Regions from separate parts of the Homo sapiens genome. Here regions 1 and 3 are each linked to region 2. Evidence: fine-mapped expression QTL. A gene starts in region 2. Each other region holds a variant in brackets. All regions are shown on one strand. Distances are from middle to middle. Region 1 overlaps ABCB1 (ATP binding cassette subfamily B member 1). Region 2 holds the start of ABCB4 (ATP binding cassette subfamily B member 4). Region 3 overlaps CROT (carnitine O-octanoyltransferase).

Evidence for each region. PIP is the estimated chance that this variant, and not a neighbour inherited with it, causes the effect.
Region 1: its variant is fine-mapped to the expression of ABCB4 in whole blood (TOPMed, PIP above 0.99).
Region 3: its variant is fine-mapped to the expression of ABCB4 in whole blood (TOPMed, PIP above 0.99).

What each region holds. Positions count from the first base shown.
Region 1 is chr7:87,492,862-87,504,123 of GRCh38, reverse strand. It overlaps ABCB1 (ATP binding cassette subfamily B member 1), which reads left to right. Exons shown (of 28, transcript NM_001348946.2): 28 at 1-1,107. Among named protein-coding and RNA genes, the nearest start is that of ABCB4, 23 kb to the right of the region's middle. The variant T/C (reference allele first, on the strand shown) is at 5,084.
Region 2 is chr7:87,470,025-87,481,286 of GRCh38, reverse strand. ABCB4 (ATP binding cassette subfamily B member 4) reads left to right here and starts at 5,607. Exons shown (of 28, transcript NM_000443.4): 1 at 5,607-5,653; 2 at 5,816-5,901; 3 at 8,612-8,666. The coding sequence starts at 5,822. RefSeq lists silencers at 5,231-5,480, 5,531-5,730, 5,741-5,880 and an enhancer at 6,351-6,420.
Region 3 is chr7:87,373,707-87,384,968 of GRCh38, reverse strand. CROT (carnitine O-octanoyltransferase) reads right to left here. Exons shown (of 18, transcript NM_021151.4): 8 at 9,244-9,337; 9 at 9,016-9,141; 10 at 7,519-7,620; 11 at 2,976-3,059; 12 at 2,788-2,895; 13 at 2,426-2,556. It also overlaps a transcript of ABCB4 not described here. Among named protein-coding and RNA genes, the nearest start is that of CROT, 34 kb to the right of the region's middle. The variant T/A (reference allele first, on the strand shown) is at 4,828.

The sequences.
Region 1 (11,262 bases), 23 kb before region 2:
TCAAGTTCAGAGTCTTCAGAGACTTCGTAATTAAAGGAACAGAGTGAGAGACATCATCAAGTGGAGAGAAATCATAGTTTAAACTGCATTATAAATTTTATAACAGAATTAAAGTAGATTTTAAAAGATAAAATGTGTAATTTTGTTTATATTTTCCCATTTGGACTGTAACTGACTGCCTTGCTAAAAGATTATAGAAGTAGCAAAAAGTATTGAAATGTTTGCATAAAGTGTCTATAATAAAACTAAACTTTCATGTGACTGGAGTCATCTTGTCCAAACTGCCTGTGAATATATCTTCTCTCAATTGGAATATTGTAGATAACTTCTGCTTTAAAAAAGTTTTCTTTAAATATACCTACTCATTTTTGTGGGAATGGTTAAGCAGTTTAAATAATTCCTGTTGTATATGTCTATTCACATTGGGTCTTACAGAACCATCTGGCTTCATTCTTCTTGGACTTGATCCTGCTGATTCTTGCATTTCCACATTAAGGTGGCTCTCAAACCCAAAACACAGATCGATATAAGATTTTAGGAGGTGGGGTGAGGCACAATTATGAAGTGCATATTATTCAGATGTATAGTAAATACTTTGCATTGCTTTTATAAAGGGTTCTTTAAGGATTTTTTAAGATTTTTACACTTCCAAAGTACATTTACTTTTTGTCTTGATAATGAATCACTTTTGCCAGTAATTGGCCTCTTCCAAAAGTGATCCTTCTGACTTACAGATGTTTAAAATGTGCCATGAGTTTAACTACATCTTGATACAAACATGATAAAAAAAGAAAAAAATATATTCCAAAGGTTGGGACTCTGGACGACAAATTTTTTTAAATTAGCCAAAAAGCATTATTAACATTATAAACTATATTTACTATAAACAATTGCTATCTTAAATAAGCAACTTCTAAAAATAAAAAAAAGAAGCCATCACCTCCAGGAAAAAAAAATAGGAAAGGATATAATCAGGTAATTCTCAAAGAAGAAATGCATGAGAAAAATGTATACAGTTTCAACAATCAAATAAATGCAAATTAAAACAAAATATCATTTTTTTGCCTTGTAATTTAATGATGAATAAAAAAATCTAATGTGACATTCCTTATTAGTTGAATTGGTCATTGATATAAACTTCTTTGTTATTTGATAATGTAAGTAAAAAATGTAAATGTATATCCTTCAAGACAGCAATTGTAATTATAAGGATTTAAGAGATATGTAAAAGGATACTTTTAGTAGCATTACTTATAATATTGAAAATTGGAAAGATCTAAATATTTAACAGTAAGAAATTATACATTAAGTTTTGGTGCATTCACAAAATGGAATACCATATAATCATTAGAAAATTATGTTGAAGAATATTACAAAATATAATTTGTATAAAGAAAAAATGGTTGCCAAATGGCTTGAACAATATGGTGGCTTTTTAAATATTATATATATAATATAAATCTATATTTATGTATCTATAGTTATCTATCTATATTTATGTATCTGTAACTATAGATACAGTCTATATATAATTATATATAATTTTATATATATATAATTATATATAATTTTATATATATATAATTATATATAATTTTATATATATAATTATATATATAATATATATAATTATATAATATAAAATTATATATAATTATATATATAATATATATTATATATATAATATATATAATATATATAATTATATATACTATATATATATTTAAACTTCTGAGAGACAATCCAAAATAAACCAGAATTAGAAACAATTTTATCTCCTAAGTTTTCAGCTTTTGTTTTAAAATTTTAAGGCTTTAAAAAGTGTGCTTAGTTTAGGAAATTTCGATAAATTTATGTGAATAGAAGCATAAAACCATGTCACTTGGTTTGACTTCTTAAAGATTTTTCCCTCAACTCTTTGTATGTCTGCTGTAAGGACACTTTCTTTTTTTTTTTTTTTCTGAAGCGGAGTCTTGCTCTGTTGACCAGGCTAGACTAGAGTGCAGTGGTGATCTCAGCTCACTGCAACCTCCACCTCTGGGTTCAAGCGATTCTCCTGCCTCAGCCCCCTGAGTAGCTGGGATAAAAATTCTTAGATGTCTATAAAAAGAAAAATAAAAGTATTTTTTACTGTCGTTTGCACAGTCTAGTTGCTGTAGTTGGTGACACTCGCTGGCTCTCTCTGAACCATGTTTCCCTATTCACTGTTTTGCCCTGGCTGGAGTTGCATGGAGGTGGAGCCCCTCCCAGGGCCTCCAGCTTTTTCTGCTTGAGTATATTGCTGCCCCTTTAGCATTAAAGGCTGTCAGAGAGGGGGTGCTCTTTTTCACACCATTTATTTTCTCCAAATTTACCTCACAGGGTCAATTACCACATTCAACCAGTGATCTCAGATGCAACAAATGATTTTAGTACAAGCAAAGTCTCACACAAAGACATGTACACCATTATTTGTAACACTCCTATAATAACTCTGGTAAAAAGTAAGAGAAGCAGAAGTTCTTATGTTTAAGAAACATTTTCTTGAGTGACACAAAAGGTGATTACAGTAGTGAAGCTGTAGGACTATGTGATTAAGTACCAAACTGTGTCACACATCATGGATAATAGTTAAAAGCATGTGATATGGTTTGGCTCTTGTGCCTCCACCCAAATCTCATGTTGAATTGTAATCCCCAGCGTTGGGGAATGGACATGGTGGGAGGCGATTGGATTGTGGCAGCAGAACAGCAAGTTCTCATGATAGTGAGTGAGTTCTCGCAAGATCTGATTGTTTAAAAGTGTGTAGCACTTCCTGCTTCCCTCTCTCTCTCTCCTGCCACCATGGGAAGATGTTCTTGCTTCCCCTTCACCCTTCTGCCATGATTATAAGCTTCCTGAGGCCTCCCCACCCACGCCTGCTGTACAGCCTGTGGAATTGTGAGTCAATTAAACCTCTTTTCTTTATAAATGACCAAGTGTTGGTCTTCATAGCAGTGTGAGAATGGATGAATGCAGCAGAGTAGCGGGAGTGTGCATAGTGCAGAGGCTGCCTGGTGGGAAGGGACTGTGTTGTTTGTTGTGTTGTGTTTCATAGTCAGCTGTGTAAATTTGTCTCCTCAGCAGGGCCACACGCTCTGTGAAGGCTGGGTGACACTGTATTTATCTTGGTGTCCCCAAAAGCCTAGAAACAGTGTCTTAGGCATAGTAGACACTACTAAATGTCTGGTGAAGTAAATTATGGGATGTTGGTGGGGTACCAAATTTAGGTGGGGCCAAATTGTGGTAAGCCTAGAATGCCAGGCAGAGTAATTCAGATTTGAAGAGAGAGAAAATGAAAAACCATTGATGACTCTGAATAGGAGCATAATGTGGTGAAAATACTGATACCCACTCAGAGGGATTGGACAGGAAAAGCCCTGCAGTGAGTTGAATGGTGGCCTCCAAAAAGGCATCTCCGATCCTAATCCTCAAAAACTATGAATGTGACTTTACTTGTAGAAAAGGTCTTTACAGATATAAAGATCTTGAGGAGATCATCCTGGATTATTCTGGTGGGCCCTAAATCCAAGGTCCAGTGTCCTTATAAAAGTGAGGCACAAGAAGGTTTGACACAGAAGAAGAGGAGGTGATGTGATCATGGGAGCAGAAATCGGAGTGATGCAGCCACATGTCAAGAAATGCCAGCAGCCACCAAAAGCTGGAAGAGACAAAAAAATGGATTATCCCCTGGAGTCCATGAAGGAATTGTAGTCCTGCTGGATTTTGGATTTCTGGCTTCCAGAACTAGGAGAGGAGAATCTTCTGTTGTTTTAACCCACCATGCTTGTGGTAATTTGTCACAGTAGTCTCAGGAAACTAATACATGCCTCAAATCAATGAAGCTAAATAAGATGCTTTTATTTAAGAGAAAACATGCAAGCGACGAGGGTAATGTGGCTCTGAGTTGGGCTGGTAAAAGCAGAGAACAGGTAGCTATGAGAAACACTCACAGCCTAGTAAGAGAGGGAGGGAGAATAGAGGCCAGCTGGGAAATACTGTGACAGTGAGGGAGATGAGGAACTCTTTAGAAGGAGGAGGATTTGTTTGTATGGCTTGAAGATGATATCAAAGTAATAGATGTTTGAGGTGTGGCCCTCAAGATATAGGCAAAACACAGATGGATCCCAGCATGTGCGACTTGTTTGAGTTCAATCCTTTTCTAGCCCAGGCTTCTTTATTTTCTTAGTTCCACCCCAGATTATCCAGTTATACCCAACTTTAACAATGGTGGTTCTTCTGTTTGGTTCACCAGAATCAACTCCTGATGTTGGGACAAAATGTGCTTCAGTCTCTTTCCTGACACATAATGCAGCCATTTGTCCCCAGGTCTCAATAAGAGGTCTTTTTTAGAAATGCGTTTTTCTTATATCTCAGCTTAAGGCTCATGCTCTGATGTGTGAACCCTTTGAGAGAGGACTGTCTTTGCGTCACTGTGTTCCGGTGTTTGGCAAAGTCCTTGGCATATAGCAGAGGCTCAATAAGTGTCTGTTCTTTTGCCAATTTTTTTTGTGTGTGTGAAAAAGTGTGTACTTTTTCTGGGTCAGTTTCATTTTATCACAAATTAATATCTAAAAAGGCTTTTGTTAATATAAAATATATAAAGAAGATTCCTATCTAAAGCCATGTAATTGTACATGAAAAATAGGGAAGCCCATCATTACAGTAACACCTGAGGACTGAGCCTTACCCACTATACAGAATAAAAGAGAAAAGACTTATGCAAATTGTGTGCTCTTAATTTTAGAAAAGAAAATATATATATATGAAAGTTGTAGTAGTACAGTAACAGTATTGTACCAATTTCAGTGTTCTGGATTTGATTTTGAACTACAGTCACTACATGTCATCATGGAAGAAAGTTGGGTGACAGGTACACAGGATGCTATGTAGGAGCCCCCTTCTCACCTCACCTCCCAGAAAGAAGAAGTAAAGAACAAGCCTAGCGATGGGAGGAGGGGGAGGGGTAAGACATGGAGGAAGAGACATAACAGGGGGTGGGCAGGAAGGGAGGGAGTTTTTACTTCACTACCCTTGTTCAAAAAGCACAGCCATCAACAGCAGA[T/C]GTCTGACACCCTTTAAGTCTGAACAATCAGATGATGTATATGAAAGTCATTTGTAAAAGTTTTAAGAGTTACATAATACAAGGAATGTTATACAACAGAGATATTTATTGAATCTCCCCTGCACAAAGAGAAGAGAGCACTTTTCAAGACAGCGTTTTCTTCCTGAATCTGTTCCAAAAGGAGCCTCAGTGACATTCCTCGAGGCCACTTAACACTTGCTCCAAGGTCAGAACTGGATGCAAGACCCTTCAAAGAAGCCTCCAAAACAAAGGCCTTCAAAGGCATCAACCGATTTTTACAACTTCTTTCCAAGGGTGAACTTGGCCCTGCTGATTCACATGTAATGGAAAAGCAAGTGGCTGCTGGGCATACATCTGCTGATGCCCAGTTCAAAGTCACCCTCCACTCTCCCAGGGCGCCAGGCTGTTCCATTCCTTGCCACCTCAAGATCCACTTCAGCCTGGGGAAAAACCACAGCCTCAGGTCCAAGTGTACCTGCTCACTTGCTCCAGCTTTCAAGGGACAACCAGCTTCTTTGCAGCCCCCACCTGAGGGCCCCGAGCTGGACGCATGGGTCACAGGACCAGGGGGGATCCTCCTGGTGAAGGTTCTGCTGCTCCTGTCCTGTGCCCACCATCTCCAGGGTCTCCCTCTGAGACCCCTGCTTGACAAAATAGGTTTCAGGGTATTTTAAGCCAAGGACCAGATCCTGAACTGTGATGATCCTGCACTGTCAGAATCCAGTCACTATTCTATGAAAAGCCCATGTTACATGGGGTGACTATGTAACCTGACCTAGCCCACTGCCAGCATCAAGTGCCAGCCCCCAAGATGGACCCAATAAGCATCTGACCGCAACCTCATGAGATGAGAACCCTCAGCAGAGCCCAGTCAATCTATACAACTAGAAGATATCATAAAAACCATTTGTTTTAAGCCAATTCATAACCAGAACAAGTAATAACCCTCCTAGTTCCAGAGCCTATCAAGGACTTTCAGTGACCTTAACTCTCTTGATCTTCAAAAAAATCCCTCTTAGCTGCAATATCATGGTGGGCACCTGGTTTATCATTGTATACATCAATACCTCTATCAATACTTGGCATATCAAAAGTCTTCAATAAAAATATTTGTTAAATGAAAAAAAATAAGAGATTTGTTGCTCTTGGGAAAAAACAAAGATTAAACACAAGATTTTCAGGGAGCACTTCCTGCAACTGTAGTCCTTTGTCCCAGCTGGAACTTCCGACACTGAGATGAAAGACCTCTGCCCTTGCAGTTTGGAGAAATCAGAATAGCAAAGAGAAAAGCAGGAATGCTTACAGATATGTGCAAGGGCAAAGATATATGATGAAATATTTTTACCTGGGCTCTTTCAAAAGAGTCAGTTTGGGTCAAAAGGAAAAGTGACCTTTGAGTTGAAACCCAGTTTTCGCTTTCTCAACTGGGTGGCTAAATTTAAATGATTTCCTTCTCTACACAAGACGCTGTGTAAGAGTATGATTATGCTTGGTGTATAGCCAAGCTCCTAGGCTCTCCAGTCAGAGAAACCTGGGCTTCTGTTCTGGCTGCCAGTTTGCTAAAATGTGTGGCTTCTTGGGCAAGTTACTTACTTTTTTTAAGCCCCTATTTCTGCATTGGAAAAAATGGAATTTCAATGTCTACCTCATTGAATTAGTTGAGCACTAAATACTGTAATGAAGTATTTAAGACAATACCCAATACTTAAGATATAAGCAAAAAAAAAAGCTGATTGCCTTCATTTCATATTTTTCTTGCTCTTCAAAGCTACCACTTCTCTTGCATGAAAAGGAATTTTTGTATTTATCCATGTAGCAATTATTTTAAGTGCCTACTGGCCTAGATATTGGGAGCACAATGATTAGACAAGGAGCTTACAGCTTAGGAGACAGGACATAAGTTTAGTAATGTGCATTGATGCCATGATGCAAGATGGTGGGGTGTGGTAGTGGGGACCAAGAAAAGAGCAGTTACCTCTCTGGAGAGTGGTTTAAGGGCTAAAAAATATTCCAGGGCAACGAAGATGTCCTTTGGAAGGTAAATAGATGAAAAACTGTGTTACATCAAGACAATGAAATATCACGCAATGCTAAAGAGAAATGAGCCATGAAAAGCCACAGAGGAAAATTAAATGCATATTACTAAGTGAAAGAACCCAATCTGAAAAGGTTCAAACTGTATAATTCCAACTACATCACATTCTGGAAAAGGCAAGACTATGGAGATAGTAAAAAGATCAGTGGTTGCTAGAGATTGGGGGAGTGAGGGATGAAGCACAGATAATTTTTTAGGGCAGTAAAACTACTCTATAAGATACTACAGTGGTAGACACATATCATTATGCATTTGCCCAAACCCACTGAATGTACAATACCAAGAGTGAACCCTAAAATAAACTATTTGGACTTTGGGTGATGATGTGTCAGTGTAGAGGAATCATTGCAATAAATGTGCCACTCTGGTGGGAAGGCAATCAATGTGTAGAAATAGGAGGTACATGGGAAGTCTCTCTACCTTCCACTCAATTTTGCTGTGAATCTAAAAAATGCTCGAAAAAAGAAAGTCTATTAAATAAAAAGCTTCCTGGATAATGGAATAGATGCATGTCAGATGGACAATAGAGGAGGAGTGTGGATGTGGAGAGCAGTATAGAACAGTTTAGAAGGCTGGAACCAGAAGTGATTCAGTGCGGTCAGAGTTTTAGATGTTGGGTGTGAGGAAGGGTGGGTAGAGGCCCCAAGGAATGGGGCAGGGCCAGGCAGGACCTGAGCCTGAAGGATATTGTGTGCCAGAATAGCTTTTATTATTTTTATTTTTGTTGTGATTCTTTTGAAATAATATGAGTGTTGAGATATGCCTCACTTTAGAGTGGCCTTATTCTTTCAAATGTACCTGTGCGGTGAAATTTTGTAAAATAAATCACATTTTACTTTTTCCATTATAAAGATGAAAATATAACACTTTACAAATTCCATAAGTAAAGGGAAAAAAGGACCAACTTCAGACACCTGCCTTGTGACTCCTGAATGTGTGGGTAGACTGCAAGAGAGCTTTTGTATCTGTAGAATTTCAACCACAAGCATGGGGGTTGGTGCACACAGCATTCTAATATCATAGGCAGGGAATCACATTATTCTATTTGGGGATGGGGGGAAAGGCAAGGTGAGGGAAGGAATATATATGTATGTTTGTGTGTGTAAATATATATATATTATATATATATTATTTTAAATCAAGAATAGAAAGACAAAACTAAACAATATTATCTAAGTCATAAATATAATATTTTAGTTATATATTCAAGCCAGTTTGCAGTTGAGGCTTTCTATTTTCATCAAGATTTTAGTACAAATTATTTTTTAATTTCCGAAAGAGTTCATTGTCCCTTGTCAACTCTCTCTTGTGCAAAACGTCTCGATCAGCATGGGCAATGACACCGTTATCCCAATTCTTCAGTTTAAACAGATGACTCATGCAGGACTTATCAATGATTTTCCATGTTATTTTGGGATAGTGCCAGGTCTAGCCAAAATATGGCTGAGATTTCCCGAATTATTTGAAAAACCCCATGACCACAATATTCTACCTCTTTTAATTAAAGAATGGTATAAAGTTCTTTGGATTCAGAGAGTCCAGGTCAAGAACATATGCATATAGACAAAGCCTGGAGAGAAATATGCCAAAAAGGAAATAGGTTAAAGTTTATTTAAAACAATACTAAGGATTTCCTTTACGAGAACAAATATTTTTAGGACTGTTTAAAAGTGTCAGAGACTAAACACAAAATGCTGGTGTTTCACAAAAAAATTAGCATTTATGAATTTGTGTTTATCATATACTTTACTTCAGAAAGCAACTTTTTTGAGTAGCTAAAATTTTGATTATGGATTATTTTTTGTTATAGTAATGAAATTAAATTCATTCATTGATAGCTGAAATTAGATTTAAATACTTCTTTTAAAATTCTTGATATTTGCATTTATGCTAGAAAGGCTACCTTAGCCAACAATTTTATTGCATTGCCCATCAAGGCTAAAGTCATAAGTTAGCTATGAAAATTCTCTGCACTGAACTCCCTTATGCTTTCTGTATTTCTTTATGTTTCACTCTATATTTTAATTATTTCCTATTTTCACTCTGTTTATAGCTATTTTACATACCTAAGGGCTAGTCTCTATCTTACTATCTTTGTGTCTTCACTGTCTCAACACAATGTCTTGACACAATGGGTGCTGTCTTTCAAAGTGTTGCATAAAGCACTAGTCACTATAGCAAAGAAATGGAATCAATGGAGATGCCCATCAATGTTGGATTGGATAACAAAAATTTGGTAAATATATACTATGGAATACTATGCAGCCATAAAAAATGAAGTCATGTCCTTTGCAGCAACATGGATGCAGGTGGAAGCCCTTATCCTAAGCAAACTAACGCAGGAACAGAAAACCAAATACTGCATATTCTCACTTATAATTTGTAGCTAAGCATTGAATATACATGAACACAAAGATGGGAACAATAGACACTGGGGCCTACTTGAGAGGGAAAGGTGGGGGCATGTGTGCTTTGGAAGACTACCTATTGTGTACTATGCTCACTAGCTAGATGACAGGATCATTTGTACACCAAGCCTCAGCAACACACAATTTACCCATGTAGGAAATCTGCACATGTACCCCTGGATCCTAAAGTAAAAGTAGAGGAAGAAGGAAGGACAAAACAAATAAAAGTGTTGCATGAATCATGAACAGACATAGCTAGTCAGGAAATGGTAGAGTTAAAATACCTGCTGGCAGTTTCCAGATTCTTCAGCTTCAGACATGTGCCAGATATCTTCCTTTTGCCATTCCATATCTATTCTCCACCCTCCCCTCCACACTGCTGTTTACTTTAGGAAGTTGACTTCTGTGGGTTCAGCTGAAGGGGGTGCCTGGAGACAGTTGGGGTGGATCACTGCTCTTCTTGAAGCAGTTCTATCTACATGATGCTCAATATGGCTTCTGGGAACTGCTCCTTTCCCTCATCCATGCTGGCCTAGGGAAGGCCATACACCTCCCCAGTGTTTGTGGCCCCAAGATATTTTGCTATCTATTATGGTATATCCACTATGCCCTATGTTCTACTCCTACCTTTCTAAATAGTTCCTTCATTACATCCTCCTTGAATATCCTAATTTGAATATGCCATTTGTTTCATGCTGAGACCTTGACTGATACATGACAATTCAAATTATGGCAAAAGAATCCACCATTCTTGACCAGTATAATCATTGCTTTCTCAAAATCCTCTCAATAAACTCTGAAAGTCTAAATTCCTCCTAGTTCTTAGCCTCTACTGTATCAAATCTCTTTTATATTCCACCATATCCTTATCTACTTTTTGACTCAGTCAAATTAACATCACACCTTCTTTATTCCATGTCTCCATTCTTCACCTGCATCTGTCTTTGGCATTGTTTCCCTGCTCTTGGAATTGTTAGGATTATTTTTCTTAGGAGTAGCTTTATGAATAAGTTTAAAGAAATTATTAATATTGTGCTTTCAGCGAGTATTTTGCAGTGTCAGGAAAGGGGGAAACACTGGAAACAAAGTTAAAAGACTTTTTTTTAACTATAGAGCTTCTCAGGATCTGTGATGTGCATTGTGATCTTCTGAGTGTGGTAAGCAGCATTTCTCAAACTTACTTCATCATGGAACACTCGTTATCACTAAGCACCTGTTGGCATTCCTCACGTCACAGTTTGGAAAACCTTGCCTGTGGGTATGCTTTTCACTCCATCCTGCTCTTCCTCCATAAGTATTTATTGTACAAATGAATAAATATTGACAAAATTGGCCAGAACTCTAAAAGAGGGAAGTGGAAGACAGGGTACCGCAACCCTTCCTTCCAATCATTGGTGTCTGCATAAATCAGGATCTCCAAAGATGTATGGGGTCAGGTGAAAGGTGGCCAGCACCTCCTGCAAGATCCAGCTTGAGGGACTGATGGAGACCTACCTGGTTATTCATTCAGAGGTCTTCTTCAAGCCTTCAAGCCTAGATTAGTTGTGGATGTTTCTCCCCTGGTCTTTCTGCCTTAATTCCTGAACTAGCTGGTGGTGGAAAAGGGAGTGGGCAAGAAGAGAAAGAAGAGCATTTATCAGGGGCTTGCAATGTTC
Region 2 (11,262 bases):
CTGTGTAAAATTCACTTTGATATCCCCACCTCTAAACTGAGAATAATAGTTCCTCACTTGTTTACCTTGAACATGCTCCTTGTTTTGAGAATCAAATGAGATGATATATATGTGTGATAGGCTCTGTAAATTCATAAAATACTATATAATCTGAGTAACTTTTGCATTAGCCTTGTTTAAATCCTTCTTTATATGCCTAAAACTTTTTATCCTAAAACCTTAGCCCAGGTCCTTGCACATAGTAAGTGTGGGCAGCAATTATTGGATATTCCAGCGAATGAAATGAAAACATATTAATATTTTTACTCTCACGGCTCTTATGTGCTACTAAGATGACAAGAGACAATAAGCATAATAAATTCTTTAATGATATAGTATACTAGAAGGTGATAAATGCTGTGGAAAAGAAAATCAAAGTAGGATAAGAGGAACTGAGAGTCCTGAGGGTACAAGATCCAACTTCTAATTGAGAAGAGATTTTTAGGAGGTGAGAGTGTCCTCCATGTCAGTATTTTGGGGAGGATAATTTTGGACAGGGGGAACAACTAGTACAAACACCCTGAGGTGGAGTGCTGCCTCTCTTGTCTGAGTAATATCCAAGAGGCCAGTGTGGCTGGAGTGGAGTTAGGCAAAGACAAAATAAATAAAAATGAGATCAGAGAGGTCACGGAGAGGGCACAGCATTGTAGGCCATGACTGAGTGAATTGGGGGCTACCACAGAAATGTGAAGAGAAGAGTGATGTGATGTGACTCACATTTCAAAAGAATCATCCAGGCCATGCTTTTGACAATGGACAAAGGCGGAAGAGGAGGAAAGGACAGAGGCAGAGAGACAATTAACAAGCTATTATAGAAAATCAGGTGGAGATGATAGTGGCTTGCATGATGGTGGTAGAGCTGGAGGTGCAGGGCAAAGGTCAGATTCTGAATATATTTTGAAAGTAAAGGCAACAAGATTTCCTGACAGATTGATTATGGTGTGTCAAAGAAAGAGAGGAATGCAGGATGATTCCAGTGTTTTTGTTGACAACTATAAGTCTGGAGCTGCCAACTGGATGCAGAAGTTCACTGGAGGGCCCAGCCTGGGGAAAGGATCAGGAGCAGGTTAGGCATGTTAAGCTTGAGATGTCTGTTAAACATCCAGATAGGAATGTCAAAGATGCACTTGTGTTTAAGAGTCAGGAATGCAAGAGGGAATTTTAGGCTAGAAACAAAAAGTTAGAAATTATTCGATACAGATGGTATTTAAAGCTGTGTGACTGACTGACATGACAGAAGTGGCGAGAATAGACTGAGAAGTCCAAGGAATGAGCCTTGGACCACTCCAGTGTTAGGTAAGTAGTTGAAAAAAAGAGAGAGAGAGAAGGCATCAAAGGAGACTGAGGAAGAGTGATCAGGAAAGCATAGGAAAATCCGAGAAACATATGGTGTCCTGGAATCTATATGAAAAAGATATATTCAGAAAGACAGAGTGATAAATCTGTCAAATTATTGAATTTGTCAGGTAAAATAAGAACAGAGAATTGATCTTTGGACTTAGCAAAGCAGAGATTATCAGTGACTTTTATAAAAATAGTTTCGGTAGTGTGGAAAGATCAAACTTCTGTTTAGAGTGGGTTTCAGAGAGAACAACAGGAATTGAAGAAAGTAATAAACTTTGCCAACCAGTTTAGCTCCAAAGGAAAAGAGGGAAATATGATGGTAGCTGGCAGGGGAAGTGTGGTCAAGAGAGGTTTTTTGTTTGTTTTTCAAGATGGAAGAAATAACAGTATGTATGTAAGCTCACAGGAGGGATCCAGCAGGCATGGGGAAATTGATGATATAGGACAGAAAGGGAAGAATGGCTCCTTGTGAAAGTGAAAGGGGATGGGATCTACAGGATGAACATGCAAACAAAGACTGGCTGCAAAGAGAGGCATGAATAGTTCATTTACAGAAACAGCAAAGGCAGAGTGTTGGTACAGATGCTGGTAAGTGGAAAAATATCATGGTAGGAGGTTATGGAGTTCCATTCTAAACACTTCAACTTCATCAGTGAAATAAGCACGGTAATTTAGCAGAATGTGAAGATGTAAAAGAACAGAATTTGAGAAAACAGACGATATGAAATAATTATTAGAAAAGCAGGTGAGTGAATGAACTAAGAAAACATCTTATGACTATTGGTCAGTAAACGTTGGGATACATAGTGAATTTTACAAAATCTTTGCCCTCATAAGTCTTGCATCCCACAGAGTGGGCAATAAATAATAAACATAATAAGTACATTATGTATACAGTATAGGGCCATGTAAGTTCATGGCGAGGCAAGCCCGATGACTTTGTATTTTTCTTCAGACATGTTCTGCTGCATGGTGTAGGTTCACAGTAGCTCAGTAACTTGAATTATCCAGGATTGTGGTTTTACTAAGCAAGCCTGATAAAGAGAGAGGGCTAGAGGGTTGTGGGTGTTTTCAGGCTGAGTTAAGAGAGAAGACATGAAGGAGGTGAGGAACAGTAAAAAGGTGGTAAGATCAGTGGACTGAAGGATGCATTAAAGAATGACTGTGTTTAACTCTCTGATACATCTGACGTATGTTCTCCATCTCCACTTCCCTGCTAGTCATAGCGGATAAGGATACTCCCTGGATTCGAATTCTAGTTCCATCAGTTATAAGATATTGATTCTGTTTTACTTTGTCTGTCTCATTCCAAAACACATGTCTCTAATTACCATAGTTTGATAATGAGTTTTGATATTTATTTAGTAAGGCAAACCCATAAATAACTGATAATTTTTCAAGATAAAAGTGAAATAAATTTTCAGGAAAAAAAAGCTGAGAAAATTTGTCACAAACTAAAGAAAACAAGAAAGAGACAGTAGATGAAAGAGTGCTCATTAGGTGAAAGGAAAATGATCCAAGAGGGTAGCTTTGAGATGTAGGAAGAAACAAAAAGCAAGAAAATGATAAATGTTTTGATAAAGCTAAATAAGTATCAACTCATAAAGAAATAATATTCCCAGAAGAGTCATGAATATACAGAGAAAATTAAAGTACATGACAATGGCAATGTAAAAGTTAGGGGTGAATAAAAAAGAGACTTAAGAGTTCTAAAATCATTGCATTGTCCTGGAAGAGGAAAAAGTACAATGATTAGTCAAAGATACATGTCATAATCCCTAGAAAGGAGATCATTATTAAATAGAAAATAAAAGAATACATCTTATAGAAAGGAAATCTAAATGATAATATTAAACAGATCTAAAATAAGGCAAAAGTGAGGATAAAAAAGAAAGATGGAACCAATGGGGCAAATAGAAAAAGTAAGATAGCGTGGTAGGGCATTAATTCCAGCCTTACATCAATGCATAAGTATCTCAATATTCTACTGTAAAGGGAAAGTAAAGATTTCTTACAGCCTGAGTGTAATGGAGAAATCTAGTTTATCATAGTGCTTTAAATATTGTAAGTCTTCAACTTCTAGTTGATGAATAAATGATGGAATTCTCAGTGATACTGCACTGTTATCAAATAAATATAAAAGGAGCTCCTGGAATTGGATGTAATACAGGTAAAGAAGTAAACACAGCCATATAGGCATGGCTTCTTGCAGGGACAACTTTGTGAATCGGCTCAGACAGACAGACAGGCAAATACACCTCATTGCCTCATACATGTTATTTGCTTTAGTTTTTGTTCTGAACCTTCCTACTCCTTCAAGTATCTGCATTTACTTTATCAAATTCTCTTTTATTAGAGACTGAAGAAACTGTCATCTCCTTATGTGCTAATGAGTTTAATAATGTCCTCCAGTCACCACAAGCCTTCTTTCAAACTACACAATTCCAACTGCTTCCGTCTCAGAGTATCTTGAAATAATGATCTGACCGCCTGTTAGACCAGTGAAGGGAAGGAATTTGGGTTGATTTAAGAAGAGAATCCTCATGGTCATGGTAGACTGATATGGAGAGAAAACATTTTGAGGAAAAATACTCAACTAAATTCATTTCTACTCCAGCATGCAGTTTCAAGTCAAGTTCCACCTTAGCTCCAGGTGGCAGGCAGAGCAGGATGCAGAGGCACAGCACAAGTAAGGGGTGAGTGCCGAAGCTGCTGGCTCCTGTTCCAGTCTTTCTTCCTTGGCCTCGCCTGAACTTTTACTATAATAATAGTCACCATTTATTAGGTGTCTCCTACGTGCAGGACACTTTACACACAGTATCCCTAATCCTAATAACACCCTTATTTTATAGATCCAATGACTGAGTCAAGAATTACATAACCTGGCCAGACAGCTGGTACATGGGAAAGGTGAGATTCACACCAGGGTCCACCCAGCATCTCTACTTATACCATGCTCTGCTTTAAGGTTCTCTGAGAACTCAGACAAGCCTTGGGCTAACAATTGTGTTAACAGGACATAGCAGGTGCAAGGACCCACTGGTCATCCTGCTACCTGATCAGAAGGAAGGAAAGTTGTATTTGTTGCTCACCTACTATGTTTTAGGCATAGTACTAGGTGCTTTTACCTAGTACTTAATTCCCTTATCCTCAACTCATTTATTCCTCGCAATAACCTGATAAGGGAGATGTTTTTATCCTCATTTTACATATAAGGAAACAGGCCTAGAGAAATGAGCACAGTGTCCAAAGTCACATAGTTAATAAGATGTGAAGCTCTGAGTTTGAAAGTCTCCGGTTTCAAAGCCATGAAACTTATGGCTCCCCGTTTTAGACACTTCCTTTTGGGAAGAGTGTGGAGGAATTAATCAGAAAGAAGAAAGTCATACTCAAATAGGTGGTAGGAGCAGAGACAATTCAATACAGACAGAAGTCTTAGATGAGAGCAGTGAGCCAGGGCACTGGACTGGGACTCAGGAGGCTTCCCCTAGACTCTGGTTCCACCGATGCAGCCTCAGGCAGGACTTCACCTCTCTGGGCATCCGTTTCTTCATATGTTAAACATACGGGGTTTTAATTAGATGATCGCTGAAGACCCCTCTAGCCCTAAAACTCTGTGTCTCTTAAGTGCTAAGAGGGCACCAACAGCGTTCCTCCTCCCCAAGGAGCATAATGTGATGGTTCCTGCCGGCCCTGGCTGACTCTCGCCGTCCTTGGAGATAATTGGGTTCAGTGCCACCTGGACCAGAACTGGGGATGCGGAAGCAAGAGGCGAGTCTATTGCTCTCTCTCGGTCCTGGGCCGCCCTGTGATTGTTGGGCGTCCGGAAACTGTCTCCCCTATGGGTTTAAAAACAAAACTGAGCGCCCATGGGGTGTGACAGTCATCTGCAGGGGCTTGGGTGGCCCATCAGGCGAGGCTTTCTCGGCACCCGAGGCTCCAGCCTGATCTCGGTCTTATCCTGCGACCGGGCTGGTTCTGGCGGGTCGCCAGGGTGGGCGGCGGCCCCAGCCGGGCGCCCCGGCGGCAAGAGCGGCAGGCTGCGCCCCTGGCCCGCGCCTAGCCTGGGGAGAGAGCTGGGCGGGCGGCGGGAGCTGCTCTCGCGGGCCGCGGCCCTCGCCCTGGCTGCAACGGTAGGCGTTTCCCGGGCCGGACGCGCGTGGGGGGCGGGGGCGGGGGCGGGGGCGAGGCCGCGGCGAGCAAAGTCCAGGCCCCTCTGCTGCAGCGCCCGCGCGTCCAGAGGCCCTGCCAGACACGCGCGAGGTTCGAGGTGAGAGAGGTCCGGGCGCGTCTGGCCTCGAAGGGAGACCCGGGACGTGGGGCGCGGGGCGGGAGTGGCCGGACCTCCACCCAGTGCCCCCGGGCCCCGCGACTCGTGCGCCGGGCCGCCGGAGAGGGTGTACTTGGTTCTGAGGCTGTGGTTTCTCCTCAGGCTGAGATGGATCTTGAGGCGGCAAAGAACGGAACAGCCTGGCGCCCCACGAGCGCGGAGGGCGACTTTGAACTGGGCATCAGCAGGTACATCCCCAGCAGCCACTGGCTTTTCCGTTACACGCCAATCAGCAGGACTAAGTTCACCCTTGGAAAGAAGTTGTAAAAATCGGTTGATGCCTTTGAAGACCTTTGTTTTGGAGGCTTCTTTGAAGGGTCTTGCATCCGGTTCTGACCTTGGAGCAAACGTGTTGTGTGGCCTCAAAGAATGTCACTGAGGCTCCTTTTGGAACAGATTCAGGAAGAAAAGGCTGTCTTGAAAAGTGCTCCCTTCCCTTTGTGCAGGGGGGATTCAATGAATATCTGCATTGTATAACATTCATTGTATTACGTAACTCTTGAAACTTTTACAAATGACTTTCATATACATCATCTGATTGTTCAGACTTAAAGGGTGTCAGACATCTGCTGTTGATGGCTGTGCTTTTTGAACAAGGGCAGTGAAGCAAAAACTCCCTCCCCTCCTGCCCATCCCCTGTTATGTCTCTTCCTCCTTGTCTTACCCCTCCCCCTCCTCTCATCGCCAGGCTTATTTGTATTTCTCCTTTCTGGGAGGATAGGTGGGGAGGGGGAACTTCTGTACATCCGAATCAGTTTTGTTCAAGTGGTAGGGGGAAGCAGCGCTTCCTTTGCCTTCATGTCTTTCTCGGTTCCCCTGGCCCTTGTTAAACTCACTTCACAGGCTTTATGAGCGGGGCAGAAGTTCCCAGTCAATGGCGTGTGTCTTTGTTTCCTCTTTCACTGTGGGAATAGTGAATCATTTTCGCCTTTAGCCTGAAATAGTTTATGAGGCTATTACGGTCTCTGAGTTCATACCAGGCTACCCAGAAAAAATTGACCTGTGTCAAGTGATCACCCAGAGGGACAAATTTATCAGTCTCTGTAGTTTGTCCTCAAGCTGCTAGGGGCTTGATTAGCTAACTGAAAACATGCCTACCTGATGCTTAAACTGAAGCATTATTTTAGCCTGTTAATGTGGTTGTGCAGTAACCTTGCTGTATTTCTTCTAAGCACCATTGTATTTTTTCATAGAAAATTTAGTTTTGCCATGTAGAATTGAAAAAGTGATAGATGGTGTTACTTCCAATGGAAGTACTTACACACGCAATAGAAAAATATGGTTTTCATCAGCTGGCTGTTTAGGCAGGGATTGACTGTGAGTCTATTAATAGATGGCATTTTCATGAAGAAGTCTATTTATGTATTGCACTGGCTTAACATTTGATGCGTGTGCAAAGGAGCTATTCCTACAAAAGGTGTAGTAACACTTCAGAACCCAGGAAAGTCCTCAGAGGGGAAGCCCACAGCTTCTGCTGGAAAGAAGAAAGCAGCTCAAAAGAGAAATACAGAAAGTTAACAATAAGTTAAGACCACATGATTATGAAATCAAATGTAGTGAAACTAATTTTTATAAAAGCAGACCAAAGATAATATATTTAAAGGAAGTTAAGCCTGCTTCAATCAAATTAGTTATATTCTTGTTCTAATTATGTTGCTATTGCCCATGGCACATTCTTTTGAACATATTTAGTGGCAGATGTTTGTCCAGTGATTTTAGTCAATACTTTACATAATTTGGAATCATCTTATGAGTAAAACTTTATCATTTACCTGGATAAATGCATCATATTTATGTAAAAATCATCATATATATATAAATCATCATACACACACACACACACACACTCCCTCATAGAGTTTATATTATAGTACGGAGGACAGACATAAATAATGTACATACTAAATAAGTAAACCACAGCCAATGTTAGAAGGTAATTAACGCCATGGAAAAAAGCATTAATCCAGGTTAAGGGGATCAGGAGTACAAAAGGGGAGTACTTTGTAATTTTAAGTAGGGTGGTTAGGGTAGATCTTATTTTAAAGGTAATATTTGAGCAAAGACTTGAAAGAAATGAGAGGAGACAGCTGTGTGGGTATCTAAGGGGAGAGCATTCCCGGAAAAGGTAACTGGCAATGCAAAGACCCTGAGTCAGGTACATGTTTGGTGAGTTCATGGAACAGCAGAGAGTCCAGGCTGGTTGGAGCAGAGTAAGCAGGTTTGGGAGTAGGGATGTGGTCAGAGAGGAAATAAGCAAACAGATCGTGTAGGACCTCAGAGGTTAATGCAAGGATTTTGGCTTTTATTGTAAGAAAAAGGAAAGCCATTGTAGGTTTTTGAGCAAAGAAGTAGTGTATGGCTTGGCATTTTGAAATAATTACTCTGACTGCTAGTTGAAGATAGACTGAAGCGGCATAGGTGGAAGTGGAGAGACTAGGCAGGAGGCTGCCCTACTGGTGACAGCAATGAAACTGGTGATAAGTGGTTAAATTCTAGATGTACTTTGAATGTATCACCAACAAGATTGCCTGACACCACTCTCCACAATCCTTCAGAAGAATAGACATTCCTAATTTTAAATCATGATTTTTTTTAATTTTAGAAAACAAATAACTTAATTGACTTAGCGACACTGTTAGCATACTTATCTTTCCTGTGTATGTGAGCTCTGTAAGGCAGGCGACCATTTCTTATGTATCCATGTATCTTTGTAGTACCTTCGACAGTTACTTTTGTGCTTGCTATGTTTGTTGAACTGAATAATTTTGACATTTTGTGAACATCACTCTTATATTTGAAAATATAATAGTTGAATATTGTAACTAAACATATTTATGTTCAATTGATTGTAAAACATTTTGTAACAGTTTTAAATTGAAGCAATTCTATTTTTTACAGCAAACAAAAAAGGAAAAAAACGAAGACAGTGAAAATGATTGGAGTATTAACATTGGTAAGCTGTGAAATGTTAAATGTGAATAATCCTACCTTTTATTCAAATTTGAGGTATTGAATCAATTACCTTTAAAGCAAATACTTTAAGATTGTCTAGCTAGGCGAGCTGACTCATACTTGTAATCCCAGCACTTTGGGAGACTGAGGTGGGAGGGTTGCTTGAGCACAAGAGTTTGAGACCAGCCTGGACAACATAGTGAGATCTCATCTCTACAAAATAATAAAAATAAAAATCTTAAAAAATAGCATATGTCATGGCATGAACCTGTAGTCCCAGCTACTTGGGAGGCTGAGGCAGGAGGGTCTTAGGAGTCTGAGGCTGCAGTGAGTTATGATCACACCACTGCACTCCAGCCTGGGTGGCAGAGCAAGACCCTGTCTCAAAAACAACGACAACAAAAAACTGTCTGCAGACAGCAATAAATTGTCCTTGCTGCACCTGTGCTGTATAAGTTTGGCTTATTATAGTCAATGACCCACATTCTTAAGATGGATGATTTTTTAAAAAGTAGAGACAGGCTGGCGATGACACCGGACAGAGCTAACTGGTGTGCAAGGAAAGTGAAAATGGGAATTGTGTTAGTAGCACAATGCAAACTCAACAATTTCAAGAAAATGCATTTCTGCATTTGCTTCACAGACCCCCACCCCAAATTTAGCTTAAAATAAGCTTGCATTTCAAGAAAGTAATTGTTAAGTACATAAATTTTAATTTAAGGAATCTACATTCACATTTGGTTTCCAAAAAATTGGCTAAATAGGGGGTAACTATTAGGAATTCTGATTATGCTTAAAACAGTTTTCGGTGCTTTTCTGTTGGTACAAGACAAGACAATATTTTTGGAAGAAGTCTCCTCATCTGGTTTTCATTTGAAATATGTCTTACAGAGGCAGCTCAAGAAAGCATTTGCCCATTTTTGGTAAATATGACGTGTTTCAAACTGTGACAGCCATTATTTGGTAGCAAAGAAGTTAGAATTAAGTGTCATGTCAGCTGAAATCCAACTTAGTAATTAAATGGATAAAAAGACACCAAAACATCCACACTCTCAAACACTGCTGCATACTTCTCATGTAACCAAAAGCCCCTATTCATTGTCTTCTCTCCTCTTTTTTTATTTGTTTAAAAAGCCTCAGTAAGGGCAATTTAAAAAAAAATTAGCACTTTGGAGAATAAATTGTTTATCAAATGAAAGCTGGTTTTATTTATTTTTTTAGAAGTTTTTTTTTCTTTATTTTTTTAAATTTGTTTAAATTATACTTTAAGTTCTAGGGTACATGTGCATAACGTGCAGGTTTGTTACATATGTATACATGTGCCATGTTGGTGTGCTGCACCCATTAACTTGTCATTTACATTAGGTATATCTCCTAATGCTATCCCTCCCCCATCCCCCCACCCCACAATAGGCCCCGGTGTGTGATGTTCCCCTTCCTGTGTCCAAGTGTTCTCATTGTTCAGTTCCCACCTGTGAGTGAGAACATGAGGTGTTTGGTTTTTTGTCCTTGCGATAGTTTGCTGAGGATGGTTTCCAGCTTCATCCATGTCCCTACAAAGGACATGAACTCATCATTTTTTATGGCTGCATAGTATTCCATGGTGTATATGTGCCACATTTTCTTAATCCAGTCTATCATTGTTGGACATTTGGGTTGGTTCCAAGTCTTTGCTATTGTGAATAGTGCTGCAATAAACATACTTGTGCATGTGTCTGTATAGCAGCATGATTTATATTCCTTTGGGTATATACCTAGTAATGGGATGGCTGGGTCAAATGATATTTCTAGTTCTAGATCCTTGAGGAATCACCACACTGTCTTCCACAATGGTTGAACTAGTTTACAGTCCCACCAATAGTGTAAAAGTGTTCCTATTTCTCCACATCCTCTCCAGCACCTGTTGTTTCCTGACTTTTTAATGATTGCCATTCTAACTGGTGTGAGATGGTATCTCATTGTGGTTTTGATTTGCATTTCTCTGATGGCCAGTGATCATGAGCATTTTTTCATGTGTCTATTGGCTGCATAAATGTCTTCTTTTGAGGAGTGTCTGTTCATATCCTTCACCCACTTGTTGGTGGGGTTGTTTTTTTCTTGTAAATTTGTTTGAGTTCTTTGTAGATTCTGGATACTAGCCCTTTGTCAGATGAGTAGATTGCAAAAATTTTCTCCCATTCTGTAGGTTGCCAGTTCACTCTAATGATAGTTTCTTTTGCTGTGCAGAAGCTCTTTAGTTTAATTAGATCCCATTTTTGTCAATTTTGGCTTTTGTTGCCTTTGCTTTTGGTGTTTTAGACATGAACTCCTTGACCATGCCTATGTCCTGAATGGTATTGCCTAGGTTTTCTTCTAGGGTTTTTATGGTTTTAGGTCTAACATGTAAGTCTTTAATCCATCTTGAATTAATGTTTGTATAAGGTGTAAGGAAGGGATCCAGTTTCAGCTTTCTACATATGGCTAGCCAGTTTTCCCAGCACCATTTGTTAAATAGGGAATCCTTTTCCCATTTCTTGTTTTTGTCAGGTTTGTCAAAGATCAGATAGTTGTAGATGTATGGTATTATTTCTGAGGGCTCTGTTCTGTTCCATTGGTCT
Region 3 (11,262 bases), 96 kb after region 2:
GGCTCTTCAATAAATGGCTCCATGAAAACTGGATATCCATATGCAGAAGAATGAAACTGGACCACTATCTCTTACCGTGTACAAAATTCAAATCAAAATGGATTAAAGGCTTAAATATAAGACCTGAAACTATAAAACTACTAAAAGAAAACATTGAGGATGCTCTGTAAGACACTGAACTGGGCAAATATTTCTTGAGTAATACCCTACAAGTATGGAAGCCAAAGCAGAAATGGACGAATGGGATCATATGAAGTTAAAAAGCTTCTGCACTGCAGAGGAAACAATCAGCAGCCCACAGAATGGGAGAAAATATCTGCAAACTATCCATCTCCCAAGAAATTAATAATCAGAATATATAAGGAACTTAAAAAACTCAATAGCAACACACAAATTTATCTGATCTAAAATGGACAAATAATCTTTTTTGTTGTTGTTAGACAGTGTCTTGCTCTGTCGCCCAGGCTGGAGTGCAGTGGCACGATCTCAGCTCACTGCAACCTCTGCCTCCCAGGTTCAAGGGATTCTCGTGCCTCAGCCTCCTGAGTAGGTAGAGGTACAGATATGTGCCCCTACATCAGGCTAATTTTTGTATTTTTAGTAGAGACAGGGTTTCGCTATGTTGGCCAGGCTGGTCTCAAACTCCTGACCTCAGGTGATCTGCCCACCTCGGCCTCCCAAATTGCTGGGACTACAGGTGTGAGCCATGCGCCCAGTGACAAATGATCTTAATAGACATTTCTCAAAAGAAGACATACAAACAGCCAACAAGTATATGAAAAATGCTCAACATCACTAATCATCGGGAAATGCAAATTAAAACTACAATGAGACATCACCTCACCCTAGTTAAAAATCACTTTTATCAAAAAGATAGGCAATAACAGATGCTAGCAAAGATGTGGAGAAAAGGGAACCCTCATACATTGTTGGTGGAAATGTAAATTAGTACAGCCACTATGGCGAACAGTCTGAAAGTGCCTCACAAAACTAAAAAAAAAAGAACTACCCTACAATCTGATGATCCCACTGCTAGGTATATATCCAAGAGAAAGGAAATCAATATATCAAAGAGATAGCCACACTCCAATGTTTATTGCAGCACTATTCACAATAGTCAAGATATAGAATCAACCTAAGTGTCCAGCAGATGTATGGATAAAGAAAATGTGGGCCGGGCGTGGTGGCTCACACCTCTAATCCCAGCACTTTGGGAGGCCAAGGCACGCAGATCACCTGAGCTCAGGAGTTAGAGACCAGCCTGGCCAACACGACGAAACCCCATCTCTACTAAAACTATAAAAATTAGCCAGGCATGGTGGCAGGCACCTGTAATCCCAGCTACTCAGGAGGCTGAGGCAGGGAGAATTGCTTGAACCCAGGAGGTAGAGGTTGCAGGGAACCAAGACCATGCCACTGCACTCCAACCTGGGCGACAGAGCAAGACTCTGACTCAAAAAAAAAAAAAAAAGTGATATACATACACAATGGAATATTACTCAGCCAAAATAAAAAAACAAAGAATGAAATCCCTTCATTTGCAGCAACATGGGTAAGGCTGGATAACTTTTTGTTAAGTGAAATAATCCAGAAATAGAAAGACAAATACTGCAGGTTCTCACCTATATATGGGAGTTAAAAAAAATTGATCTCGTGGAAGTAGACAGTAAAATGGTGGTTAACAGAGATTGGGATGAGTAGGGGGGAGAGGAGATTGAAGAGAAGTTAGCTAATGGGTATAATGGTACAGTTAGATGGAATAACTTCTAGTGTTCGATAGCACAGTAGGTTGACTATAGTTAACAATAATTTGTTGTATATTTCAAAATACCAAGAAGAGAAGACTTGGAACATTCCCCACACGAAGACGTAATAAATGGTTGAGGCAGTGGACATCCCAATTACCGTGATTTGACCATTACACATTTTATGCATGTATCAAAAAAATCACATGTACCTGATAAATATGTTCAATTATAACTTATTTATCAATGAAAAAGCAACATTGAGGGACTTCTACTTCTTCTTAGGATGTATTAAGTCACAAAATTAATGTCGCTCCTATTCTAAAAATGAGTAAAGGCTGGATAATTTATAAAATCACAACTTTTCATGAACCCATCAGAAAACTGACGTTGCAAGAAAACCAAGCGATCTGAATGCCAAAGATGACCAATCCTCTTTCAGATGAGAATAGACACGTCAAAAGTTATCAAGTGGATACTGTGATAAAGTAACAAGGAAAAACTGTGAAACCACCACAGATCAGAAATCTAATACTCTATTGATGGAAGTACAAATAGGACACAGTACCAGCTGGGAAAAAAGTGAGCAAAAATACTGAGGAGTTAGGATGAAATAGCTATAAAAAAAGATATACCCTTGGACTTCAAGACTGTGAAAATAGAAACTGAATGGTCCTTACTGTCCATGAAGTCTGTAATAGGCCAGCTGAAGTGCAAGCTGAATAAACGTATCCGGGTGAAGCATCTTGTTCTTGGTTAGCTTTTTGCCAAAAGATGTAAAGGCATAAGCCGCAATCTGTAGATCAGATGCCTAACAAGAAGAATTAAATGAGAACGGTGAAAAATCACCTAAGGAGAATACACCAAAGAGAAGCAAATTATCACCTGCATTAAAGTAATCACCAGACATAAAGAATTAAAGGTGTTAAAGGCATAATTTTAAAATGTTTTGTGCAGACATGCTTGGATGACAGCCAAATTTTTACATATGGTTGTTAAAAGAAAAAATCATTATTATTTAAGAGAAAAGTGAAAAATATACCTCCCTGAGATACTGGGCTTTAGCTTGGTTGATGTCATTTAAAACTTTCTCATCCACAATGAAAATGAGCTCTTCTGGAAGTGGTATATCTCGTACCTTCTCTGAACCCTGAAAATAGGGAAGACTTAAAAATATTTTATCTATAGAACTATTAGGAGAAAAAAGATGAAATATTTATTCAAACATACCTTCCATCTTCCTTCATTCTGAAAAATTTTCTCATCCACATAATAACTGATGTTCACCATAATCATTGCATCAAAAGGAGCATGCTAAAATGAGAACACACAAGATTTCTGAATACTTTATGTCAACTTAAAACTTGACCCAATATTTTATTTTCACTTTGTGTCCATTCTTAACAGATAATAAAGCATAGAGTCTTCAAATGCCTCACCTCTTGAGGATATGATAAGATAGAAGATTCCCTACAGTTCAGTAACTGCTATATTTTATTTTTTGGAAAAAAAGTTGTTTAAATTTGGAAGCACCTAGTAGGGCTTCTGGTGGGGCTTGGGGTCATGAGGGTGTATAAAATAACATATAAACAATCTAGATAAATTAATTGCTATTTTTACTAGAAGTCAAAGCAAGTGTATATATGCAACACGAAGATGTTCTGGAATTGTAAGAACAGGGTGGAAAAGCAGATGGGGATGGCAACCTATCTGAAAGCATTTGGGATGGGCATGAACTTCTTTAGGTAAGGACTTAGGCCACTTAGTGAATATTAGAAAGCATAACCATTTTGTGTTTTTTATACATATGAATGTCCCAATGTGATAATTCTCAGTTTAAGAAATGTGGGAAAGATAGGCTGGGTGTTACGGGGCTGTTTCAGGTTTGCCAGGTGTATTTAGAGAAAGAAATTGCAGTTAGTGAATTTTCCCATCATCTATTTTGAAGAACAAAGTTTTTGCCCGCATTTTCCCCATGTTCCTTAGATAAAAGTTACATCAGACGGTTCCTTGTGACTGTCACCACTTTACATTAGACACAGATATCATTCATGATCTGAACGTGACACTGCGAGCTTGGGAGGGAAAGAAGGGAAGTAGTATCAAGATATGGGCCCAGTTTCAGAGGAGTAATTAGGTGTCTTAAATGTCACCCTAACACTATAGCTCTGTAGCCTGTATCATGGCCCAGCGGAGCCTATAAACAGGATTTATTGTTACCAACCAGGCAACAACTACATCAGGAAAGGCTCTTGAGGGAGGTCAGTATAAGATGCCTGAGCAGTTTATCTGCCAACAACAGCACACATGACAAGACTCACAGGTCGCTGACAAACCCATTTTCTAACAGTATCTCACAACTGTGTGGTACTTTACAATTTTACAAAGAATTTTCAGATATTATCAAATATATTGTTTCATTTAAGACAAACAGCATCAGTTTCCAACTATTTTACTGGAGCCAGTAGGAAATAGCAAGAGTGAAGGATGTCTCTTTGAGCTATAATTCTAAGCACCCATCTCCTAATGGAAAGCTAATAATCTCAAAGAAGGTAGAAAATATATAAAATTCCAATGCTATCCTGATGCTTTATTTGTTCACATAATTTTTACCTTTCATTTCTTGCACTTACACAGAGGCAATATGTATTTACATAGTGTTTAAGAATGTAGGCTTTGGTTCTGAGTTCAAACTACTTCCTAGCTGGGCAATAGTAAAAAAGTTACTTTGCTTTCTAATTAAACTGCCTCATTTCCCTGTAGAGATAATGCATACATACATACAGATGCTGTGAAAAATGATTTTTATACCACTTACACAGTACTTACCAAGGATCTAGCTCACAGCAATAATTAGTAACTATTGTTATTATTAACTAAAGTTTTTACATGCTTCCTATGCACCCTCTGCAAAGCCTTACAATAAAGCCTACAATATAGAGAAGACAATATAGTTGACTTCAGGTTTATAAAATAGGAGGGAAATGGAATTAATATAATCACAAAAGAACATATTCAAACAATTAAAATTATGGACCAGCAACATGGCTTTAGGGTAAAATAAGCTTTATTTTACAGTACA[T/A]ATGCTTATTTTTCTTCTTATTATTATTTTTGGGACAGGGTCTTGTTCTGTTGCCTGGGTGGGAGTGCAGTGGTACAACCATGGCTCACTGCAACCTGGACCTCCTAGGCTCAAGTGATCCTCCCACCTCAGCCTCCCAAGTAGTTGGGAGTATAGGTATGCATTACCATGCCCAACTAATTTTTTATTTTTTGTAGAGATGAGGGTCTCACTATGTTGCCCAAGCTGGTGCTGAACTGCTGGAATCAAATCCTCCCACCTTCGTCTCCCAAAGTGCTGGGATTATAGGCATGAGCTCCCATGTTTGGCCTACAGCATATGTATTTCACTAATGATGATTTACAAAGGTTAAACTGCACCCTCTATAATCATCTTAGGTTAGAAGGGAAACCTCCATGGAATTTAATGCAAATTATCAGGTGGAGATAATCAGATCAATTTTATGAATATATGCATGTTAATGCACACACATAAAACATGTCCGCACACTATAAAAAAGCAGTTCAGTTATGCTGAGAGATATGCTCATTATGAGCCCAATATTCTTTATTCAGAGACAGACAAGATTATCAAAATTATTTTCATCTTGAATTTGTGTGAACAGCAGGATACTGGTGCTATTAGTAAAAATCAGTTTAGCAAAAGGTGTTTTTTGATGGTCTTGGGGATGAGGGACGGAAAGCAAGATGAGTTATTCTTGATGAGATTGACTTACTCTTATATAACAATATAACATCCAATTTGAACAATTTAACATATAATGAAACACAACTCTCAAATGAGAATAATAGGTAAAAGCTAGAAAAGTATAGCTGCAAGTTACATATATAACAATAGGTCAATAAAGTGGTCAGAGGGGGAAAAGTGTGATGAATATTAAGGTCAGTTTCAGAATCAGTAGAGAGGAAAATACTGTTAAGAGGAAAGAGGCAGTGTCAAAATATGTATGCAGAGGGTAACCAACTGCAGCAGACAGGTCAAAGGGAAATGAAGGGAAGAAGCCAGGGGGCAGTTAACCACCTTACAAAGGGTAGTTTGCAAGGAATGGTAAGGACATAAACCAGACTGAGGAAGGTCAAGGAGAATCAAATGAGGAGCTGAAGAGAAGAAAACTGAGGCAATTAACAAGAACTATTCTGTCAACAGTAGACTCAAAGGAAGAGTAAAGAGAACATCTTCAAAATAAATGACTTGTGGCAACTTTTCACTGTAGCTCTGATGAGATACTCCAATAGACATTTACTTTCAGTGCCTATTAACCAATCCACCTTGTTCTGAAATAACAGCTACTTTACTGTTCTTTAGGCAACCAAGCACCACTTTGTAGTGGTTTGAATGAGACTGATTCTACCCACTAGATTCCAAGGTTGGGCATGTGACCCAGGCCAAGCTCATCCAAGCACCTGATTCCCCAGGATGGGGACATGAATCACACAGGCCAATCACAACTGATGAGGATTATTCCAGGACTTTTGCTGTAACCATTGGAAACAAAGAAGCTGACTATTTCCTTTGGGAGTCTATGAAGAAAGCTATGAAGATATGAGACTGTTGGTACAACAATCACATTGGGCAGTCTACCTAAATATGAGGCCAAACAAAAGAAAGCAGTACCAAAAAATGGGGAGAGATTTCTAATGAAAGCATTTGAACATTGAAGTCAGCTTTACCCAAATTTAGCTAACTCCTTGCCAACAAATATCTTCTTACGCTAACGCTAGTTTGATTTAGGTTTCTATCACCTAAACCTGAATATGGATTAATACAACTACTGAACCCTTTTTTTTTTTTTTTTGGAGTCGGAGTCTCAGTCTGTTTCCCAGGCTGAAGTGCACTGGCCCAAACACTGTTCACTGCACCCTCAACCTCCCAGGTTCAAGCGATCCTCCTAGACCTCAGCCTCCCAAGTAGCTGGGATCACAGGCGCACAACACCATGTGAGGCTAATTTTTGTATTTTTTGTAGAGACGGGGTTTCATGCCATTGCCCAGACCAGTCTCCATCTCCTGGGCTCAAGTGATTCACCTGCCTTGGCCTCCCAAAGTGCTGGGATTACAGGTATCAGCCATCATACCCAGCCCCAAACCCCTTTATAAAAAATTTTCTTGGTTCATAGACCTCCTGAATGCCTATCAGACAGTTAGTAGACAGCTAGTGAAGATGTCCATGGGAGGGGAACAGAGGAGAAGCAAGAAAAGTTGTTCATTTTTTATGAAAATGGTCAAAATGGTAGTAACTGCCATTTTAATATCCACAGCCTAAATAGTGTTCCAAAGATTATGTGTCATTTTAGGAAAATAGTTACCTAGTTACTAGGTGAATCTTGAACTCTATAAATATATCCATATGCATTGCTCTGCATAGAACACATACATAATGCCATATAATACCTTTTGAAATAGGTATTCTCAGCAAGCAGATAATACTGGGTTTTAAGAGCTTATATTACATAAATATTATATGCAAATCCCATTTTGCAGATATAGTACACAACAAACTGTTGGCCTTACTACAGAAGAAAATAACTTGTCCTATACTTTCAATGAGAATTCATAACTAAACTTTTCACCACAGTGCCATAAAACTAAATTACTATTCACTTACACTGTTCCCCAGCACAAGTATTTATGGTTTATTGTCATTAATTTAACCTAAAAGATCAAAAGAGAAAAATTTCAGTAGTTTACTTACATCACAATTACAGCCAAATACTCCATTAGAAAAGGAAATCAAGTTATAGGATTTGTCACCCCAGCGTACTGTTGGATCTCCAATAAGGATGGCTGCAATAATCTAAAATAAATTTAATTTTTCCAAATTAAAAGGGTTTAATATTGGTTTGTAAGAATTTACATCTTAAACACATATATCATCTCACCATTCCTCTTCACGTCAACCAAATTTAATAAAATCATAATATAGTTATGATCAGCAACACTGATATGTGATATGCAAAGTCAAGAGAGAGTAATTCTGGCCCTGACTTTAGGGGCTTCTCAAAATCTCAAGTTAAGAAAATCCTACCAGAAAAGAAAATGCTGGTACAATATTCATGAATGTTTACAGAACATAGAATTGAGAGGATAAGGGTTTTGTAACTTGAATAGGATAAAAGATCTTGATAAAAGTTTAGTCATTAAAGTCTAGTTAGGAGGAAATATTTTAAGAATTCGTTTCCTACTAAACCTGTTTTTCAAACTGTATACTTTGGCCTATTAATGGATCATGAAATTAACTCAGTGCATCATAATCAATATTCCTTACAAAAAAGGAGAATAAAATAGACTGGAAATATCAGTGTACCTCACAGACAATAAAAGTAATTAGTGCTCTGTGAAACTCCTATTTTATATATGTGTTTGCATGCATATACACATGTATATATAGTGGGCTGCAATCTAAATGTATTTGTAACTAAAAATTGTGGTCAAAAAACTTTGAACAACACTGCATTAAAATACATTCTTCCTTAAAAAGAAGTCTGGTGATTCTCAAAAAAAAAAAAAAATCTCTCTCCTTGCTACAAGGTTTTCCAATCCTTGATATTTTTTCCTATTATTTAATACCGATTAATTCACTATAAAATAATTAAGTATTTTCAAAAGACTATGAGATTTCTAATACAATTACTATCTTTTATTATTTCCTGGGACACAAATGTCACCCTGGGGGTGGCAGGGGAGCATAAAATAAGGCCATATTTACCCTTAACGTCACTGACATCAATGTGTTCAGCAATTAACCAAATGATAAAATAAATGACTTACAAGGGTGACATAATTCTTAGGAGACACAGTCCCAACTATGGTGTCAAGATACACTAGTGCAGGTTATGATTAGGTTATCATTTCACCTTTGGCAAGAAAAGCTCATTAACCTAGTGCTCTGTGTAAATTTTCTGAGTAGGCAAGCAATGAAAAGGTTGAGCAACACTGATATGTGATATGCAAAGTCATACTTCTTTAAACAAAGTATAATATATAGCTAAACAAACTTAAACAATGTGGCAAGGATTTACCAATTTACTATCTACTTTATAAGCTTCAATTTGGCACAAGTATATTGTATAACTAAGAAAAAGTTTCAAGAGCCTAAAGGTAGAAAAAGAAAAAAAACTTCCATGTTCAATAAATATGAGTCTTCCAGAAAAATCTGCAATAAAAAAAAAAAGAGAAGGTAGTTAAGTACCTCAGAATAATCCTCTGGTGTTACATGTGGACTGCTATCCTCCATGGAATATACCAGTAAACTACTCTGAATTTTTTCTAACAAAGCCAAGTTCTCTGGATCAAGACCAATCAGATATTCTCGTGCCTAAAGGGCAAGGAGATGATGATCAAATATTACAACTGAAATACAATACATCAAAAGAGTTTGTTAGAGAAAAGCTTCGTTAAGAAAAGTGTAAATCAGAACCTTAGCCCATCGAGTTCGCTCCTCACTAGTTAATGCTGCAATCCCAGGTCCATCAGGTTCACTATGGCACTTCTTGTGGATATATGTCAGTTGTCTTATGGAAGATGAAAAGAAGATTAAAAAAGAGTACAGGCAGAAAGTAACTACTTTGGCCTTTAAAAGGTCATAACATTGATCAATATTTAAATGTTTGGATATATTACCCAAAGAAACCACTTATGATGCCAATAGATTTCCTACATCACATATTTTTTTAAGTGATTGTGTTCTATTAACACCAAAAGCATATTTGACAATAATTTAATTTCAGTAAATAAATTTAGTTATTGGCTAAATTTAGTTTCGCTGATATATACTTTGGAAATGTGCATGCACTTCTAGGTTGCAAGTAAATATCCTTTTTACTGTAAATATCCTTACAATGGAGAACTTGAAAAATATCCTGGTAATCAATTTCACAAATATAATGTACATCTTATCTAACTAAAATCTATGTGCGTATATATTTAACCAGAGGACTTACTGTATACTCAATTAATATTTGTGTTTTACCAAAAAAAAATAGAAATACCATATAATCAGTTTTAACTATTTTCATATGTGCCACTTTGTTACTTCTAATCATTATATTTTTAAAGACTCTATTAGCTAAGGATAAACTACTCCCCCTCCACAGTATTTTATGCTCCTAGATTGGTGAATTTCATGTATCTTTAAACATACAGCAGATAAATAACTGGGTTCTCCCATAAAGAAATTTACATCAGTCAAAAATCCACAGAGCTTTAATTTAGCTCAATTTCATGGCACATGTTAAGAAATTACTTCAATTTAAAAGCTTTCAAGGATTTCTCAGGAAGTGAGCTAATGTAGCTTAATAAATGGTCAAAAAATGCTACTAGTAGCCATCAGTTCTGACTTCATCATTCAAAATTGGAATTCATCATTTATCTACTGATTTGCATACTCTCCTCTGTTTGTTCATTATATCTGTAACACTGATAAAGAAATACATTTCTTGCTGAAAAATTCCCCCCTTGTTATTTGCAAATTAATGGTGTCCTGAGGAACAGAATAAGGGTTTCTTCACCAATCTGCATCTATAGCAGAGCAACTTGCTTTGCCTCTCTTCCTGCTTACTTTCTTTAGTAACTACTGATTTTGCTCCAATTATAAGTAAAGCTTTTGCAGTTGTGGTTACTAGCATAAACTCTGAATTTCTAAATAAAATCAACCTGTTTCTCTCCATATGGTACTTGTTGCTACCTTTCCCTTACCAACTACCTCAAAGCACGAGTTTTGACTATGAAACTTTTACTTCCTCCCTGAAATGATCATTTTCATGTTCGTTTTACAAGGTGGTCATTATTAGGGAGAAATTACAAAGGAAAGTGTGTTAAACCTGAAATGACATTTTAAGTTTGATAATAAAAGGTCACATAACTGCCCAAATCGCCACCATTAAGAGATACAGATTTGGTAACAAGATAATCCCTCTTTTCCTTTAACTTGGCTAACTATGCACCTGTTTTTCAGCTACACATCTAATTTTTTATATTTCAAAGCACAAAGATTTGTATTAAAAATATCTGCATTACAGAATCATATATTTTTTTAAATATTCTATAACCCACACAGTCTGGCTTCTGCTTCATCGCTTTCCATTCACTCTTTAATTTACTGTCCTCGATTTTTGTTCTCCAGTGATTATCTTGAAAGTCACCAATAATGTCCCATTAAGGAAACCTAGTAGCTTTATTTAAGTCTAATTTTCCTCATTATAGAATGTTTGACACTCAGGTATGAATGTTAAAATTATCTTCTTACTTGATTTTTTCACATGGTCCCATTGTCGTCTCCATACGTCACTGAAGTCTTTTTCATTGACCATTTGTTCTCCTTACACTGCTGAATGTGTCTTTTCCCAAATTTCTGTCACTGGCCTTTCCAAGCTCCTCTTATAAGTTTCTCCCTTGGTAATCTCGTCTACTTCTTTAATAGTTTCAATGATCACCTTTA